Linked DNA regions of Homo sapiens: region 2 is linked to region 1. The links come from fine-mapping of genetic effects on plasma protein levels. Region 1 holds a variant in brackets. A gene starts in the other region. All regions are shown on their forward strands.

What was found. PIP is the posterior inclusion probability: the model's chance that the variant is causal. The UK Biobank Pharma Proteomics Project read protein levels with antibody pairs (Olink). The fine-mapping took linkage between variants from a reference panel, not from the people measured, so its PIPs are less certain.
Region 2: C1QTNF1 starts here. The variant in region 1 is fine-mapped to the plasma level of the C1QTNF1 protein (UK Biobank, PIP above 0.99).

Annotation. Positions count from the first base shown.
Region 1 is chr4:3,448,502-3,458,555 of GRCh38, forward strand. HGFAC (HGF activator) reads left to right here. Exons shown (of 14, transcript NM_001528.4): 14 at 736-985. The coding sequence ends at 918. Among named protein-coding and RNA genes, the nearest start is that of DOK7, 9.8 kb to the right of the region's middle. RefSeq lists an enhancer at 554-1,357. The variant G/A (reference allele first, on the strand shown) is at 881.
Region 2 is chr17:79,015,820-79,025,873 of GRCh38, forward strand. C1QTNF1 (C1q and TNF related 1) reads left to right here and starts at 8,350. Exons shown (of 4, transcript NM_030968.5): 1 at 8,350-8,675. C1QTNF1-AS1 (C1QTNF1 antisense RNA 1) reads right to left here. Exons shown (of 3, transcript NR_040019.1): 2 at 4,187-4,417; 3 at 3,390-3,797. RefSeq lists a silencer at 8,682-8,771.

The DNA.
Region 1 (10,054 bases):
CAGGCTCTGAGAGGGGCCTGGGGTCCCACAGAGCCCGGACAGTTCCTGGCTGTCCAGCCCAAGGCAGTGCTTTCCGTGTGACACTAGGCACCAAAGGCCCCTTTGCCCCGAGTTCTCTCAAGCCAGCTCTTCAACCTTCAATAAGTTCTTCAACCTTCAATAAGCCCAACAGCCCAACCACGTCCTGGGCTCTGCAGGCCTGTGTGCTCAGGCGGCACGGCAACCCTGGCATGCGACGGCTCTCTTATGCCCCATTTTATAGCTGGGGAGACTGAGCCCCAGGCAGTCAATTCACTCTTCCAAGGCCACAAAGCCCAGGAGTGGTAGAGTGGGTAGGGCTTGTCACTGGACCTCGATAAGGGAAGTCAGGATGGTTTCCTGGAGGAGGGAGTGTTTGCACTGGTCCTGAGTGATGCGTAGGAGTTTTCCAGGGAGTGAAGAAGTCATTTCAGGAGGTGCTGGGACACAGGGTGGCTGTGTGGTCCACACAGGGTTCATGCTGGTGGGGAGAGGGGGACCGTGGCTTCAGGAAGGGGAATAACGTGGTTGGATGCCCTGGCCCAGCCAGTGCTGCCCCCAGGGAATGAGACACCTTTTCATGAGGTTCAGGAGAGTGGATCAGCTCCCTTGCTCAGAAATGCCTTTGTCCTCTGTCCCCAAGCTGCCACTTGGGGGAGAGGGGGGTCCCTGAACCAGGCCCCTGGGAGGGTGGCTCTGACCAACGTCTCTGCCCAGGGGGACTCAGGGGGGCCCCTGGCCTGCGAGAAGAACGGCGTGGCTTACCTCTACGGCATCATCAGCTGGGGTGACGGCTGCGGGCGGCTCCACAAGCCGGGGGTCTACACCCGCGTGGCCAACTATGTGGACTGGATCAACGACC[G/A]GATACGGCCTCCCAGGCGGCTTGTGGCTCCCTCCTGACCCTCCAGCGGGACACCCTGGTTCCCACCATTCCCTGCCTTGCTGACAATAAAGATATTTCCAAGAACCCGGCCCACGCTGCCTGGCCCCTGCCTGCGGCCCCGCCTTCCCCTCCAGGCCATGACTGGGGCCCAGGTCTATGCGCAGCAGGCCTCAGGCTGCCGTTCTGGAGCGCACACAGTCCTCAGTGGAGACGGAGCCTGTGGCCCCACAGCGGGGTCTGGCCCCACGGCCCAGAGAGTTGTCAGGGGATGAGGTCTGGGCCTCTCCAGGCCCCAGCAGAGTCCAGCCCCCTCCCAGGCCAGCCCCAGGCCGGGGCTCAGCACCTGGGTTGTCCCAGGGCAGGAAGTGGAAACCAAGTCCAGGCCCCCAGGCGTGGAGGGGTCCGATCCGCGTGGTGCACGGAGTATTGAACCTGAAGAAGAAAGAGCGGCCCCACGGGAACACCCGCAGGCCGTCGTTGGTCTTCCAGATGGCAGCCCGCCTGCCTGAGCCTGGGCTGCACTTCCCGGGAGGGAGGAGGCCACAGGCTGCCTCTGTGGGGGCTGAGGGAGGGAGGGGCCCATGTGCTAGATGGGGCCCAGTTAGAGGGTCACTGCTGGGCAGGCAGAGGCCGTACCCTCCCTCCAGCCAGGGAGGACAGGAGACAGGGGGAGGTGGGGCCAGAGGGCAGAGAGGGCGGGAGTGTGGCTGGTGGGGGTCAGGCCTCCTCCCTGCTTCGAGGCACCCAGGACCTTCTCTCCTGCGCCCCACCTCCTTCCTGGCGTCCTGGTCTCGGGGAGGCAGTGGTTTGCAGTTACAGCTGTTCCCTTTCGTCGGGAGCCCCTTCCCCAGCAGATTGGCGCCGCCCCAGGCTGTACGGAGGCTGGGAGGGCAGGAAATGGGGCATTGGGGCCACACAGTTACCGCCCCAAGCAAAGCCGGGTTCTGAGCAAAGAGGGAAGAGAGACATGGCCAGGCCCTTCTCCCCACGGCCCCTGCTGCTGTGCATGGGCCTCAGAGCCTTCGAGCTCACGGAACGAACTTGCCACTGAAGACCCCTGCCCCTGCCACAGTGTTGGTGCAGCCTGGGCAGTGGCTGGGGGACTGAGTCTGGCACCTGTGCCCCAGGATCCTGAGAGTGGAGCCGCTCTTCCTCCTGAGTGTGGGGGCCTCCAGCAGCTGGTTCTGGGGCTCTGAACCTCATGGCTTCAGCCCCGCTTCACCCACATCCGATGTGAGCCGTCCCTGACCCTTCCGCCATGAGCGGTGAGCATTTTCACATGCTTCCTCAGCCTCTGTTGAGATAAATGTACACATTTTCCCTTTGGCTTCACTAACATGATGACTTCCATGATAGGTTTCCTTCCTCCCTCCCTCCCTCCCTCCCTTCTTCCTTCCTTCCTCCCTCCCTTCTTCCTTCTTTCCTTCCTTTTCTTCCTTCCTTTCTTCTTCTTTCTCTCTCTCTTTTTCTCTCTTTTTTCTTTTTTCTTCTTCTTTCTTTCTTCTTTCTCTCTCTCTCTCTCTTTCTTTCTTTTCTTCATTTTTTTTCTTTCTTTCTGAGACAGGGTCTCACTCTGCCACCCAGCCTGGAGTGCAGTGGCGCGATCTTGGCTTACCACAACCTCTGCCTCCCAGGCTCAAGTGATTCTTCTGCCTCATCCTCCCGAGTAGCTGGGATTACAGGTGCCTGCCACCACGCCCGGCTAATTTTTGTATTTTTAGTAGAGATGGGGTTTCACCACGTTGCCCAGGCTGGTCTTGAACTCCTGACTTCAAATGATCCGCCCAACTCGGCCACCCAAAGTGCTGGGATTACAGGCGTGAGTCACTGCGCCCGGCACATGATAGGTTTTCTAACTCAGGTTGGCCTTGTATTCCTCGAGTGGACGGTATTGAGCTGAAGTGTGAGCTGGGGTCTTCCCTTTGCCCCTCCCACTTGTGCCCTGCTTGTTCCCGTCGTGCTCTGCCGCGGGAGGCTGGCCTCTCTGGTCTGCAATGGGCTGTGCACTCTCTTGTTTCTTGTTGGGCTATTGGGAGATCAGAGGCAGGGGAGAGAGACTGGGCATGTATTTTCCTGGCTCCCTTTCTTTGGGGTCAGTCACCTCAGTGTTTCAGGTGGAATTATGTCCTTCTAGAATTCATATGATGACTGGGCGCAGTGGCTCACACCTGTCATCCCAGCACTTTGGGAGGCCCAGGTGGGAATTCAAGACCAGCCTGGGCAACAGGATGAAACCCAGTCTCTACAAAAAAATTAGCCGGGCATGGTGGCATGCACCTGTAGTCTCAGCTACTCAGGAGGCTGAAGGGGAAGGATCACCTCCACCAGGAGGTGGAGGTTGCAGTGAGCCATGATCACGCCACTGCACTCCAGCCTGGGTACAGAGCAGGATCCTGTTTTAATAAATTAATTAATTCATATGTTGAAGTCCTAACCCCTAATAGCCCAGCATGTGACTGTATTTGGAGATAGAATGTTTAAAAAGGCAATCAAGTTCAAATTAGGTTATTAGGATGGGCACTAACTCAATATGACTGGTGTCCTAATGAGAAGAGAAAATTTGGACTATCCACCTGAAATAATCAAAAGGATCAGAATCCAGTTTAAAAGAGCATATGCAGGCACGAAGCTGAAAATAGCCACTCAGGACACACAGACTCCAGAGGATTAGAGCCAGTACCCCAAAGCCAAAAAGTGAAGGTCTTGCTTATACAGGCAGAAAATAAACAAATTGAACAGGGTTACAGTGCTTCCCATGCAAGGCTGGTTTATGAGTCACAGCAATTTGATTAATCACAGCTTGTTTTCTTTTCCTTTTCCAATTTGAAAGAGCCTATTGAACGTTCTGTCTTAGACAACGTGGTGGCCAGTGAGGTCTCTGTGTAAGAGAAGTCAGAGGGGAGCAAATCTACAGTGAAGATCAACATGAAGAGGGAAGGGGTCTTCCCTGGTGTCCTGTAGTCTTTTATAACATTTTACAGAACAATGTAGGTAAAGAAAAAGCTAATCTATAATCAGAGGAACAAAGGTTACAGCTGCCTAAGCTACAGCTGACCGTCATACGCAACTCAGGTCCTATAATCATGTTCCTTGAAGATGCAAAATAATTTAAAGTTCCAACAACTTTGGTTTTGAATGGCTTCTTTTTACAGGACGCAGACATGTACAGTAGGAGGGCGATGGGAGACACCTGGAGAGAAGATGGCCGTCCACAAACCAGGGCCAGAGGCCTAGAGCAGGTGCCCCCTGCTGGACTCCAAGGGAGCCAAGCCTGCTGCCCCCTGGGTTTTGGACTTCTGGCTTCCAGAACTGCAAGGTGATAAGCTTCTCTTGTCGAAGGCACCCAATCTGTGGCAGTTTATTATGGTCCCCGTAGCAAACAAATACCCTCAGGTTGGCTGCATCCTGGGACTGAAGGTCAGCGCTGCTCTCAAGATGTAAAAGACTTTCTCCTTCTGAGGCTCCGGGGTCCACTCCTGCCATTGCCAGCATTCTAGAACTGGTGTGGCCCCTCCACCTTAACCAGCCCTGGGCTCTGGAGTTTCTGACTGTGATTGTCCACATTTTGACCACAACTTTGTATATAAAAACCCTCCTTGAACTGTTCCACTGTGTGTGCCCGCCTATTGGGACCCTGACTGATACATGCTGTATTGGTTTTTAAAAACTTTTTAAAATTTATATTTTATTTAGGATTTTGCATGTATGTTTATGAGATTGGCCTATAATTTTCCTTTCCTATATTCTCTGAATGACTGTTATCAAGGCTATCCCAGCCTCATAAAATAAGTTCTTCTTTTATCAAAATTCACTGGAAAATTCTGTATATAGTTGGAAGGATCTATCCTTTGAAAGTTAAATGGAATTCACCCATAAAATTACCTGTCTTGGTGTTTTCTTTACAGGATTGTATTTAACTACTGATTCAATGTCTTTAATAGTTATGGGACTAGTTTTATTTCTTCTTGAGTCAGTTACAGGAAGTTATGCTTTTATAAATTTATCTGTCACCCAGGTGTGGTGGCTTATGCCTGTAATGCCAGCACTTTGGGAGGCCGAGGCGGGTGGATCACAAGGTTAGGAGTTTGAGACCAGCCTGGCCAACATGGTGAAACCCCATCTCTACTAAAAATACAAAAATTAGCTGGGTGTGGTGGCAGGTGTCTGTAATCCCAGCTACTCAGGAGGCTGAGGCAAGAGAATTGCTTGAACCTGGGAGGTGGAGATTGCAGTGGGCTGAGATCCTGTCACTGCATTCCAGGCTGGGTGACAAAGCAAGACTCTGTCTCACAGAAAAAAAAAATTCATCTGTCTAATTTTTTATATTCATTGACACAAAGTTGTTCCTGGTTGTGATGGTTAATATGAAGTGTCAACTTGACTGGGTCGAAGGATATAAATTATTGTTTCTGAGTGTATCTGGGTGTTTCTGGGTGTTGCCAGAAGAGATTAACAATTGAGTCAGTGGACTGGGGAGAGGAAGACCCACTCTCGGGAAGTTCCACTGTGATGTTTAATACTGAGTGTCAACTTGATTGGATTGAAGCATACAAAGTATTGATCCTTGGTATGTCTGTTAGAGTGTGGCCAGAAGAGATTAACATTTGAGTCATTTGGCTGGGGAAGGCATATCCACCCTTTATCTGGGTGGGTACCATCTAATCAGCTGCCAGTGTGGCTAGAATATAAGCAGACACAAAAACGAAAAGACTAGACTGGCCTAGCCTCCCAGCCTACATCTTTCTCCTGTGCTGGCTGCTTTCTGCCCTTGTACATTGGACTTCAAGTTCTTCAGTTTTTGGACTCAGACTGGCTTTCTTTGCTCCTCAGCTTGCAGATAGCCTATTGCGGGACCTTGCAATCACGTGAGTTAATACTTCATAAACTCCCCTTTATATATGTCTATCTATCTTATTAGTTCTGTCCCTCTAGAGAGCCCTAATACAGATTTTGGTACCAGGAGTGGTTCTAGAAGAATAGAATATTAAGGATGGACTTCTTTTGTTGGTTTTGGGATTTCTGGAGTTGCCTGCTTAATATGATTAGACCCAAAAATTCTAAGGACTCTACTTCTAATGGCATGGAGAACACCGATAGTCCTTGGCATGAACTATTTAGAGAGCTATGCAAATTAAATGCATTTGACACTCTTGATTCACTGCTCATGAGAGGCAGGGAGTTTAGTGACTCTATACATAATACCTTTGACCACATGTGGAGAACCAAAGAGCTAATGAAGCTGGTTGGTTGCTCCTAAAGTTCGGTGGACAAAGTGATGAAAGAAAATGATGAACTCAGGGATTCTAACTCTCAGCTTCAGAAGCAGATACTGAGCCTCAAATCTTCTAAGATTGCCCTCATTGAGAGTCTTATCTCCTTTAGAGAAAGAGCTGAAATCGTGGAAAAACAGACACAAGCTCTTACCATGCGAGTGACTGACCTGCAATGAAAGGTACGTGCACAGCCTCGCCAGGTGTCTACTGTTAAAGTGAGGGCACTGATTGGAAAAGAATAGGACCCTGCAACTTGGAATGGGGATGTGTGGGAGGACCCTGATGAAGCTGGGGACACTGAGTTTGTAAACTCTGATGAACATTTTTCACCAGAAGGAAGAGCTTCCCCATCCCCAGTAGTGGCAACATTCCCTCCCTAACCCATGCTGCCATCAGCCTTTCCACCTTTGTCTGAGGAGATAAATCCTGCACTGCCTGAGGCAACAGTGATGGCCTCCCATGAGGCAGTTGCCAGACAAGATAATGTTGATTCTCCTGAGGAGCCAACCCTAACACCCCTGTTTGTTTCTCAACCTATAACTAGACTAAAGTCCCAGTGGGCGCCTAGAGGTGAGGTTGAGAGTGTGACCCATAAGGAGGTGTGCTACACTTGAAAATAAGCATTTGAATTCTCTAATTGATATAAACAGAAATCTGGAGAACAGGCATGGGAATGGATATTAAGGGTGTGGGATAATGGTGGAAGGAACATAGAGTTGGATCGGGCTGGATTTATTGATTTGGGCCCACTAAGCAGGGACTCTGCATTTAATGTCACAGCTCAGGAGTTCAAAAAGGTTCTAATAGTTTATTTGCTTGGTTGGCTGAAATATGGATTAAAAGATGGCCCACTGTGAGCAAGTTGGAAATGCCTGATCTCCCTTGGCTTAATGTAGAGGAAGGGATCCAAAGGCTTAGGGAGATTGAGGTGGTGGAGTGGATTAGTCACTTTAGACCTACTCATCCCAGCTGGGAGGGTCCAGAAGATATACCCTTGACCAATGCCTTGCGAAATAGATTTTTGAGGGCAGCACCTGCGTCTTTGAAGGGCCCTGTAATTGCTCTTCTCTGTATGTCAGATCTAACAGTGGGAACCACAGTCACTCAACTACAAAATTTAAATATGATTTAATGGGATGATGGGAATAACTGGATCCTGAGGTGGCAGGGGCCAAGTGGCGGCACTCAACCATCAAAGGCAAGGTGGGCACAGCTACCATAATGGACAGCAGAGGCAAAGTGGCAATCAGAATAGTCTGACTTGTGTAGAGCTCTGGCATTGGCTAATTAATCACAGTGTTCCTAAAAAGTGAAATTGACAGGAAGCCTACTGCAATCCTGCTTAATTTATATAAGCAGAAAACTTCTAGGGCGAATGGACAAAAGACTAATATGAATTATAAAAACAGAGAATCACAGCCCCTCAATCAATTTCCAGACTTGAGACAGTTTACAGACCCAGAACCCCTTGAATGAAGGGGAGGCTGGGTCCCCTTGAGGAAGGACTCCACTACACTACTGACAATTTATGCTGTTAATCTTTCTTTCTTTCTTTTTTTTTTTTTTTGAGACAGAGTCTTGCTCTGTCACCTAGGCTGGAGTGCAGTGGTGCAATCTCGGCTCACTGCAAGCTCCGCCTCCCGGGTTCACGCCATTCTCCTGCCTCAACCTCCCAAGTAGCTGGGATTACAGGCGCCTGCCACCACACCCAGCTAATTTTTTCTATTTTTAGTAGAGATGGGGTTTCACCTTGTTAGTCTGGATGGTCTCGATCTCCTGACCTCATGATCCACCCACCTCGGCCTCCCAAAGTGCTGGGATTACAGGCGTGAGCCACCGCACCCGGCCTATGCTGTTAATCTTTCTCCCATCCTTCCCCAAGGAGACCTCCAGCCTTATACCAGGGTAACTATGTTGGGGAAAGGGAAATGATCAGACATTTTGGGGACTACTGGACACTGGCTCTAAGATGACATTGATTCCAGGAGACCCAAAACGTCATTGTGGTCCTCCAGTTAAAGTAGGCGCTTATGGAGGTCAGGTAATTAATGGAGTTTTAGCTCAGGTCTGACTTTCAGTGGGTCCAGTGGGTCCCCGGGCTCATCCTGTGGTCATTTCCCCAGTGCCAGAATGCGTAATTGGTATAGACATACTTAGCAGCAGGCAGAACCCCCACATTAGCTCCCTGACAGGTAGAGTGAGGGTTATTATGGTGGGGAAGGCCAAATGGAAGCCATTAGAGCTGCCTCTACCTACAAAAAGAGTAAATCAAAAACAATATCACATCCCTGGAGGGTCTGCAGAGATTAGTGCCACCATCAAGGACTTGAAAGACGCAGGGGTGGTGATTCCCACCACATCCCCACTCAACTCTCCCATTTGGCCTGTGCAGAAGACAGATGGATCTTGGGGAATGACAGTGGATTACCGTAAGCTTAAGCAAGTGGTCACTCCAGTTGCAGCTGCTGTACCAGATGTGGTTTCATTGCTTGAGCAAATTAACACATCTCCTGGTACCTGGTATGCAGCCATTGTCTTGGCAAATGCCTTTTTCTCCATTCCTGTCCATAAGGCCCACCAGAAGCAATTTGCCTTCAGCTGGCAAAGGCAGCAATATACCTTTACTGTCCTCCCTCAGGGGTATATCAACTCTCCGGCTTTGTGTCATAATCTTATTCGGAGAGACCTTGATCGCTTTTCGCTTCTGCAAGATATCACACTGGTTCATTACATTGATGACATTACAGTGACTGGATTCAGTGAGCAAGAAGTAGCAAACACACTGGACTTATTGGTGAGACGTTTGTGTGCCAGAGGATGGGAAATAAATCCGACTAAAATTCAGGGACCTTCTACATCAACAACATTTCTAGGGGTCCAGTGGTTTGGGGCCTGTCGAGATATTCCTAAGGTGAAGGATAAGTTGCTGCATTTGGACCCTCTTACAACCAAGAAAGAGGCACAATGCTTAGTGGGCCTATATGGATTTTGGAGGTAACACAGTCCTCATTTGGGTGTGTTACTCTGGTACATTTACCGAGTGACCTGAAAGGCTGCCAGCTTTGGGTGGGGTCCAGAACAGGAGAAGGCTCTGCAACAGGTCCAGGCTGCTGTGCAAGCTGCTCTGCCACTTGGGCCATATGACCCAAGAGATCCAATGGTGCTTGAGGTGTCAGTGGCACATAGGGATGCTGTTTGGAGTCTCTGGCAGGCCCCCATAGGTGAATCACAGCACAGACCTCTCAGATTTTGGGGCAAGGCCCTGCCATCTTCCGCAGATAACTACTCTCCTTTTGAAAGACAGCTCTTGGCCTGTTACTGGGCTTTGGTGGAAACTGAACATTTGACTATGGGTCATCAAGTCACCATGCAACCTGAACTGCCCGTCATGAACGGGTGCTTTCCAACCCGTCTAGCCATAAAGTGGGTCATGCACAGCAGCATTCCGTCATCAAAGAGAAGTGGTATATATGTGACTGGGCTCAAGCAGATCCTGAAGGCACAAGTAAGTTTTACATGAGGAAGTGGCTCAAATGCCCATGGTCTCCACTCCTGCCACCCTGCCTCCTCTCCCCCAGCCTGCACCAATGGCCTCATGGGGAGTTCCCTGTGATCATTTGCCGCGGTTTGCCATGGTTACTACGGGACTGAACGAAGGAGGATGAATGTAGAAATGAAAACAAAAAACAAGAAACTATTTTAAAGGAAGAGCACGGGGAAGAAGAGGGCTCCCAGTTTCTAGTGAGCAAGGGCAGCCACCCTGAGCTTCTATAGCCCTTCATGTTGGGTAGAAAGATCAGGGAGCAGGAGGTAATGATTGGTCAGCTCCTTAATTGATCTCAGGTTCACATTATTGCTAACAGGCTTCATAGTTACCTAA
Region 2 (10,054 bases), not on the chromosome of region 1:
CTTGATCCGCCCGCCTCGGCCTCCCAAAGTGCTGGGATTACAGGCGTGAGCCACCGTGCCCGGCCAAACTTTTCTTTTGAACTCTTTACAGCTTTTAACAGTTGAGTAAAATACACTCCTGTAAACAAAATTTGGAGCATATTTCTTTCTCTCTACCTGATTTCTCCAAAAATTGAAAACTATTTGTGAGTATTCTTAACTTATGGCTATATATTAATAGTTATTTGCATAAGTGCAGTAAGAATCTGTTTTCTTTTGTAACAGGACACAATTGGAGAAATTGGGTTTTACTAAGGCTTTGAATGGAATGGCGTGCTTTCAAATATAAAAAAAACTGCCTTAAGGAATCAAAGTTGACTTATAGAGCTAATAAAAGGCCCTTGGAAAAACTGGCTTTATACCTTGTCTATGCAGTCCCTGTACAGGGTTCCTGCCATGTGGTAAGTAAAGAATGTCACTTTGTGACAGGTTCAGGAGCCCTAAGTTATATTGGGACTTTGAGACGAGAGAAATTTACCTAACTCATACAGGTATTTGAAGGCATAAACCCATGGCTGGGCAAGGCTTTAAAAAGTCAAATATAAGATTCCTTATGGAACAAGATTCCATCAAAGCCATTTTTTTGTAAAAAGAGCCTATATGGTGAATAATTATTCTTACTGCACTTCATGCAAATGATCATGCCAAGTATAATAAGACTAAGGTTTATTTTTCAAACAAATAAGTCCTACCATTATTTGTTTTTAATAAAAATGGGGACTGGAGAGAGAAAAATTAGGTTTCAAAAACTATGGTACACCTGTTATTAGATTCTAGTCTCATTCATTGTTTTTTTTTTTTTTTTCTGCAGTCTAGACTGACCCTGCTTATTTCTGTGAACCAACCAGTGATCTCTGGCCATGGCTCAGAACAAATAATAGGGATGGGTAACATAAGAAATATCTGGATCAGTATTCTAATTCAGGGCACATATTGGAATCTGTTAGCAACCCCATATCAGCTTAGTTCCAACAGTTGCCCAGTTGATGGAATGCCTTATTTAATTTATTTGGGATAAAGTATTAATCCATTCTCACACTGCTATAGAGAAATACCCAAGACTGGGTAACTTATAAAGCAACAAGATTTAATGGCTCACGGTTCTGCAGGCTGTACAGGAAGCATGGCAGCATCTGCTTCTGGGGAGGCCTCAGGGAGCTTTTAGTCATGGCCTAAGGCAAAGGGGGAGAGGCCTCTTACATGACAGGAGCAGGAGAAAGAGAGAGAGCGAGGAGGTACCATACACTTTTAAACAACCAGATCTCACGAGAACTCACCCACTATCATGACCAAGGGGGATGGGGCCAAACCATTCATGAGAAACTGCCCCAGTGATCCAGTCACCTCCCATCAGGCCCTACCTCCAACTTTGGGGACTATAATCGGACATGAGATTTGGTGGGGACACAGATGCAAACCATATCAGATAATTTTACTTATTTTGCTTTACTATTGTGGAATATATTCCTGTTGTACTCGTTGTGTAGGAATGCAGAATAAGCTTACTCGCCGTTTTCTTAAATTGAACATTTGCCAGTCTTCCAGATATCACCTTTTGTTGGAACTCAGAGTTATGAATGGCCGTCAGTATGCTGATGCTTTCTGACTGAGTTCCTCTCTACCCTGAATACAAAAGACCTTAATAGTTAGATGAGAATATCATTACTCCTATTTAGCCTGAAGAAGCTACAGAAGGGGAATCTTCCTACCTCTACAACCCTTAGGATTAGTGGTCCTCTTGTAAAAAGGAGGGGGGAAATATGTCAGAGGCATTGGAAGCAGAGCAACTTTAACTTGAATAGGGGCTGGGTAAAATGATGCTGAGACCTGCTGGGCCACATTCCTGGGAGGTTAAGGCATTTTAACCTCCCGGGATCTGAGATGAGATAGGAGGTCACAAGATACAGGCCACAATGACCCTGCTCATATAACAGGATGCAGTATAAAGGCTGGCCAAAACCTGCCAAAACCAAGATGGCAACAAAAGTGACCTCTAGTTGTCCCAACTGCTCATTATATGCTAATTATAATACATTAGCATGCTAAAAAAACACTCCCACCAGCACCGTGGCAGTTTACAAAGGCCATGGGAACGTCTGGAAGTTACCCTGTATGGCCTATGACGGGGAGAAACCCTCAATTACAAGAAATTCTTGCCCCTTTCCCAGAAAGCTCATGAATAATCCACCCCTTGTTTAGCATATGATCAAGACATAACCATAAAAATAGCCAACCAGCAGCCTTTGGGGGTGCTCTGCCTATGGAATAGCCATTTTTCTTTTCTTTTCTTTCTTTTTTTTTTTTTTTTTTTTGGCACAGTGTTGCTCTATTGCCCAGGTTGGAGTGCAATGGCGCAATCTTGGCTCTCTGCAACCTCCATCTCCCACGTTCAAGTGATTCTCATGCCACAGCCTTCTGAGTAGCTGGGATTACAGGCATGCTACTTGAACAGGGGCTGGGTAAAATAAGGCTGAGACCTGCTGGGCTGTATTCCTGGGAGGTTAGGCAGGAATAGGGGTAAATAGGGGTAATTATATTTTTAGTAGAGATGGGGGTTCACCATGTTGGCCAGGGTGGTCTTGAACTGATCTCAGGTGGTCTGCCTGTCTCGGCCTTCTGAAGTGTTGGCATTACAGGCATGAGCCACTGCGTCCGGCCTCCTTTACTCTCTTGATAAACTTGCTTGTATTTTACCCTGTGGACTTATCCCAAATTCTTTCTTGCTCAAGATCAAAGAACCCTCTCTTGGGGTCTGGTTTGGGACCCTTTCCAGTAACAGCTCCACAGACATCATCAGATGGCTTAATTTTGCCAATCTGATGGTAATCAGTGTCTTCTCCTTGCCTGATTACTGTGAGGTTGTATATCTTTTCTTACACTTTTTGGCTGTTTACGTTTCTTTTTCTGTGGATTCCCCATCATCTTGTGTGTTTTTAGGAATTGATCCATCCCATCCCCATTGATATACGTGCAATGCCAATTTTGTCATAGATCAAGTTTTCATACACACATGGGTCTTTGTCGGGTGGGCCTTCTATCATGTTGAACTAATATACTTGATCACATCTGTTCCAATACCAGTATCTTCATTATTATGTCTTTATAATAAGCCTTCCTATGATGTAGGACAAGTCCCCTCCTACCTCACCCACCTTCAACCTTCTGGGATTTTGAATGGAATTGCTTGGAATCTATAGCTTAATTGAGCGAGAACTGAGTTTTTTTTTTTTTTTAATGATATTGAGTCTTCTATCTAAGACCACGCTTTGCTTTTCCATTTCTTTGGATTTTCTTTAGTGCTTTTCAGTAAGGGTTTGTAATTTTCACTTCACAATATAGCTTGGAGATTGTTCCAGATCACATATAGAGAGCTGTTTATTCTCTAAAGAGCTACACGGTGTTCCACTGTGTGGAATTTATTTTACCAGGCCCCTAATGATGTCCTTTGAGGGTATCTGTGCTTTTTTTATACTACGGCAATGCTTCAGAGGATATCCTTGAACTTACTTATTTGAGCACCCTTCTAAGTTTATCTGTAGGAGAAACTCCTAGAAGAAAGATTAGGGGGTCAAAGGGTATTTGCATTCTGTGAGCGAACACACCCTCCCTTCCAGAGAGGCTGTACCATAAAATCACTTTCCTTAAGGTCAACAAATACAATCAGGCTTTCATTGGATTTTCATTCTCCTTGTCTTCTTTGCATCCTCAGAGACTTCACCATAGACTCCTTTTGGAAATTCTCTTTAGTTTCTGTGGCTCTGCATAAAGGACAAGACATTCTTTATTGAATCATTCATTCATATGTTGACATGCATTTACTCACTCATTTCATAGTTAAGTGCTTGGAACTGGGGAGTCCACCAGGGGGCCCTCCCATCTTATTTATCAAGTAAAATATTGCCTAGTCGATCAGTATATGCCTGTCTCCATGTAACTGAAAACATTCATTGCCAAAACAGGAGAGTAAATATTCAGAGGTGAGGAAACTGAGGCATAGGGAAATTAAATGGCTTGATAGAGTTGCAAGGCACACGTGTACATGGCCTCAGGGGAGACTTCTGTGGAAAGGCATGGCTTCCTGGAAGAGGGAACGCCCTTACCCTCCTGGTTTTCTGCAGGTGTGAGGACCATAAAGAAACCTATTCACCTGGTGTGTCCTTGCAGCTGCCAGTCCTGATCTCCACCTGTCCCAAGCTGCTCAGAACGTGGCAGCGCCATCCAGGAGCCACGAGCATGGGCCAGTGGCCAGGGAGGCTGGATCTGTCTGCCAAGTTTCCACTTTTCCATCTTAGCAGCTTCTCCGAAGCTCTGTGGAGACTCTCCCCACTCCCACCCCTTGGCAGTGGGACGTCACCATCGGAGCCGGCCGGTCGCTACCCTTGGGAACAGAATTCAAAGTTTGCAATACCAATCTCTGCCCTTGTGGGATGACTGGGCAGCCCGACCCAAAATAGCTGGGAAAGGCGGGATGTTAGGGCCGCGGTGGGAAAACTCACAGTGCTGCTAATGACATGCTGTGCTTATCTGGAACCGAGTGTCTTGCAGACTTTAACTGAGATCACATTGCTTTTTCCAGCAATAAGTAAACAGACCCAGCGAGTGGTGGTGACAGGCCCAGGGAGAGAGAAAGAATTACCAAATCAGGGAGGGCACAGAACGTGCTGCCTTCCCTGCCAGGGGTTCCAGGAAATATTTCTTCCCATTCTAGGATCTACCCTTGACTAAGAATATGGGATGATTTGGGAATATTCAGGAAGCCTTTAGGGGTTTTGACCCAGACACCTTGTGTAGATGTGAGCTCCTAGGGAGTTTTAGGATGGGTTTGTGGGGGCTAAGAGAGAGACCTTGGGGAGGGGACTCAGTCTTTCTGGAAGTTGGCTTTGACTTCTGACCCATAATCTCAGGGCTGATGAAATCCCCCAGGCACTGTGGCTGATTTTTATTTTTGATTTCTGTTGTTGTTGCCCAACAGGAAAGGATTTTGCCAAAGGGAAAACACTCTGCCTCTTGTTGCTTGGGGGCACCTAAGGCTGAGAAGGAAGAAAATCAGCCACTCTGCAAGGACATCCCTTGCTTGCCAAAGTTTCCATCTTTCCTACTTAAAATTACAAAGCAGAAGTGAAGTTGATGACAAAGAGCATTAGGAACCTGGCATGCTCTCTATTTTGGATTTTTTTTTTCACTTTATTGAGGACAAGCTTGTATTCTCTGGGAGCTGGCCTTGTGAGTCTTTGCCCATTGCCTGCTGCCTTGAGTTGTGAGCCATGATGGTGGCACCTAAGACATGTGCTCAGACCTCAACTCCTATTCTTTGGAAGTTCCCATGCCTCCGAGCCTTGGGTCTCACACAAGATCTTGGGAAACCCCAGGCTCTCTTTGTTACCGTTTGATACCACTCCTCCCTATCCCCAGTTTCTGCCTCAAGGAAAATGAGTAATCCCTTTTCTAATCTCCTCCTTCCCTCCTCTTCCCAAGAGGATGGAAGGAAGATTATACTTGTAATAATGGTAGTTGCAATGAACAATGTGTCTGTTCCACCAACCTTTTTATTAATCATGTGAGAAGCTACAGGTTCACAATCACTTCTCCAAAATCCCTGAAATGCAAAAAATCTGAAACCTTAGTTTTTCCCTAAAGTTGGCACACACAAATTTGACAGAACAATGTGGCTTGAACTATCCTGAGACTATGGATGCCTTCATCCCACTGCCGAATATTCAAGTGTTTAACGAAGGGGCGCTGCCCGAAGCCCACTGGGTAAGATGCTTTGTGGGATATTTGCATCTGACTCTGAACATATCTGACCTCCTTGGTTCCAGATAAGAGACCCTGGACCTATCTCTGCTTTGTAGATAAGGAAGCTAAGGCCCACTGAAGTTTGGTAGCATCCCCAGGCTGCCTCAAGGTAGGACAGAGCCGGGACAAGACCTCCTAGTAGGATGAGCCAGGTGCACCTGGAAGAGATGACCAGCCTTCAGCTGTCTTTCTAGAACTTTGCACTATATTGGGCCTCTGAGTTCTGTCTTGGAATTGTGTTAAAGATAACTGTTTTCCAGTTCTTCAACACCAAAGCCATCTTGGATGGGGTAAAGAGAAAGAATAAATATTCCATCATCCACAACTTTTTTTTTTTTTTTTGAGATGGGGGTCTTGCTCTGTTGCCCAGGCTGGAATGCAATGCCATGATTAGGGCTCACTGCAGCCTTGACCTCCTGGGCTCAAGGGATCCTCTCACCTCAGCCTCCTGAGTAGCTGGGATTACAGGTGTGTGCTGCCAAGCCCAGCTAATTGTTTTATATTTTGTAGAGACAAGGTCTCACTATGTTGCCCAGGCTGGTTTTAAACTCCTGGGCTCAAGTGATCCTCCCGCCTCAGCCTCCCAAAGTGCTGGGATTAAAGGTGTGAGCCACCACACCCAGCCCATCATCTGCATCTCTTTCTCTTTCAAGCTGTGTGTCCCGCTTTGTGAATTCTGGTATCTGCCCACGACTTTCCTGAGTCTGAGGCTCCCAGGCAGGGCAACAAGAAGCCTTCTCATTGCACTGAGGGATTTCCTAGCTCGTAAGAGTTCTAGAAAGTCCCAGATTCTCTGAAGTATGGACGAAGGTCTCATAAGGGCTGCAAAAAATGCTGTTGTTTTCTCTGGTATCCCTGCACCAAGGGCTATTTGAGGACAGAGTAACTAAGGAAAGGTCAGTCCGTGTGCTAAGCCTTGCTCCTGGTGACTGGGAAACTTCCTCATGTCACTTACAGGAATGGAGACAAGCTTATCTCTGGCTTTTCCTGTATCAATAAGCAACCAGGGATGTAGGTTTTGCCAAGCCTCAGACACGTATGCCAAGAACACAAGCAACCCCTGATCTTCTAAGCCTAGCGGAGGCTGCATCTCTAGTTGGTTAAGTAGTGTTGACTTCATATCCCCATCGTGTCCTCTGAGTTCCCCCTGGGTGCTGGAGGCCTGGCAGCCTTTCTCCCTGTACTCACAGGAGGGGTTGACGCATGCAGTCAGGGCCTCTGTGGAGTGGCTTTTGGGCGCCTCGCCTGCCCGGAAGCCTCCCCTTCTGTTCTCATCTCCATTTGTCCTCAGCTCTACCTGAGTGCTGGCCTCGCCCAGCCTGGGGCAAGGCAGTGGGCATTGTGCTTGCACCCTCTTCTTCCTCTCCTTTTTGATTCTTTTCATCTGTCCAGTTGTTGGTGCGGCGGATGGGAGGACACTCCAGGCAGGGAAAGGTGAGGCCTCTTAGTTTTGCTCTGAATGTCCCAACCAGCATCCCCATTTTCGCATCTCCTGTTTGTCCAGAGACAGACCCTCACAGGAGGGATAACAAAACAAAAAAATCCAGCTGCAACATCGAGGTGAGGGGCAGCTCGGAGAGAACAGGGCAGAGGGGGGAAAAAAGAAGCAAAAAAAGGGGGAATGCTGTTATCATCAGAGCTGGCTTCTGCTTCTCTGGCCAAATCCTTCCCCTGCTAGTGATATGGTAAGTTTCCAGAGCAAGCTGGGCTGACGCAGAGTCTAGGGATGGAGACTGGGTCCCAACCAGGGCCGGCTCTGGAGCAGCCTGGATCAGGGATCAGGATGGGAGGGCAGCCTACGGGCCTTGTTCAGAAAAAATATTTGTGTATGACTGAGAAAATGTCAGGTTTTCATATCAAGGAATGAGAGGCCTGATAGAGACTGAGGAGTGCTTCCAGCCATCCTGGGCTCACCACTGTACTCGTGCTGTTCTCTAGAAAATGGAAATCTTCCCGGCAGGGGCTCCTTCCTAACCTTTAGATCACAGAGCTCTCAAGACTCTGAACAAAACAGTGGACCATCACCTTCCAAAGGTGATGCGCGCGCGCGCACACACACACACACACACACACACACACACACAGTTTGGCATTTTGTTATAGGGGGTTCACAGATTCCCCCAAACCTGTCTGAGTCCCCGATAATGCACAGGGCGTCTCAGGTCTGCCACTGTTTGGAGACCTGACCCCTCAGGGTTGGCCACAGCGGATCCCGGAGGCCTTGGGGCTCATCCCTCTGCTACCAAGTGACTAGGAGCGCTCAGCCTTGCTGGGCACCCCCATCCTGCGGGGGGCATTCTCGTCCGGGGCTCGCAGCCCCTCCGCCTCTGGACGGACCTCCAGACTCACGGAATCTGCCCCACCCCCACTCTCAGCCTGGCGGGCTCCCCAGGGGGCCGGGAGGAGGCGGCCGCTGGATTTCCCTGAGGCGCGGCGCGGGGCACACACGGTTAATCCTCCGCGGCTGCTGTTTGGACGAAAAGCGCTGGGGGTGTTGGAGGCTCCTCGCTGCTCACATCTGGCTGGGCTTCGCTCCTTGCGCGTCTGTCCCACTTTCTCCCTCTCTTCCTTTACTTTCGAGAAACCGCGCTTCCGCTTCTGGTCGCAGAGACCTCGGAGACCGCGCCGGGGAGACGGAGGTGCTGTGGGTGGGGGGGACCTGTGGCTGCTCGTACCGCCCCCCACCCTCCTCTTCTGCACTGCCGTCCTCCGGAAGACCTTTTCCCCTGCTCTGTTTCCTTCACCGAGTCTGTGCATCGCCCCGGACCTGGCCGGGAGGAGGCTTGGCCGGCGGGAGATGCTCTAGGGGCGGCGCGGGAGGAGCGGCCGGCGGGACGGAGGTAGGTGGCCGGGCCGGGGGACCCAGCGCTGCCCCGCCCCATCCTCGTGGCTTCAGCCTGGTGGCCAGGGCGGGGATGGCAGACACCTGGGCCGGGACGGACGGAGAGCGCCGTGGGAGGGGCCGGTTGGCGGTGGCGGCGCAGGGGCGGAAAGACCCGGGTTTTCGGGGGCAGCCCTGGCGTCTGGCTCTGGCTCAGCCCCCGCCATAGGCGCCTTTGCGCGGGGGTCATAATGGTCCCGGGTCTCCCTGACTGTGGAGGAGCGGGGCTTTTCTGCACGTGGATACTAACGGGAGGAATTGCACCTTCCCCCTAGTTTTTTGTGGGGTGTTTATCTTGTTTCACTGTTCTCTGGTGCCTTTCTGAGGGTGTGGAAGGAAGAGGAATGGTACTAATGCCCGCGGCTGCACCTGGCGGGGATGCCCTCACCCCACTCCTTATCACTGGGACCACCTGACCGCCGGGTCTGTCCAGTCCTGTCTGTGGCCAACCTGGACCTTCACGGAATAGGAAGCGCTGACTTTGGCCCCCCGCATCTGACAGCCTTGGTGTCCTGGAGGGGGTCCAGCTTGGGCAGGAAAAAACGGTGTTGCTTCCCCGGGGCCCTCCTGGGAAGCGAAGCTGCCTGTGCCGCTGGGAGTGGCCCCCCCGGCCTGGGGCTGGAGCCTCTGAGCCGCCCTGGGGCTTCTGGACCTCGCAGGTGGACCCACCGCCCACCACCCAGCCCTCCATGGCTTCTCCACCGGTGCAGGTGTGGTCCCCACTGTTAGCCCGGGCCTCGCGGGGCCAATACCCGGGCCACACTCTTCCAGCCCCAGAAAGCCAGATTATCTTCTCTGGACCCTCCGCGTGCTTCAGGCACCCTTGGGCCGACTCATCCCTGCTTGGGAGGGAGGGAGGAAGCCGCCCCCCTCTGTGAGGTGTTCCTGACTCTTCTACCCCACCTAGTTTCTAGGAAAGGAGGCAACATGACGTGCTGGGAGCTTTCTGGTCCTGAGCTTTGAACATGAGAAATGCCGTGAGAAACTGTTTTCTCCACCGCTGGCCACTTCACAGCCCCAGGGGAGCATGTGATGTCCTTACAGGCTGCCCGGCCTCTGCTTTTTATAGTGCAGGAAAGTACACACTCCCTGGCAGGCCGTGCAGCCATGAACAGCCACAGATAGACGCACTTGGCTGTGGTGTGTGCTGCAGGGAGCGGGAGGACATGGGAGGACGTGCTCCAGGAGGCCTCTCCAGCACCTGCCAACCGGGGAGGAGGGAACCAAGACAGGGAGATGGGAGCCGAGGTCTGAGGACAAGCAGAAGCTTCCCCACCCTCCCTCTTAGAGCTGCAGAGCTGGAGAGGCCCCTAGAGTCCACCCAACAACAACAGTGGC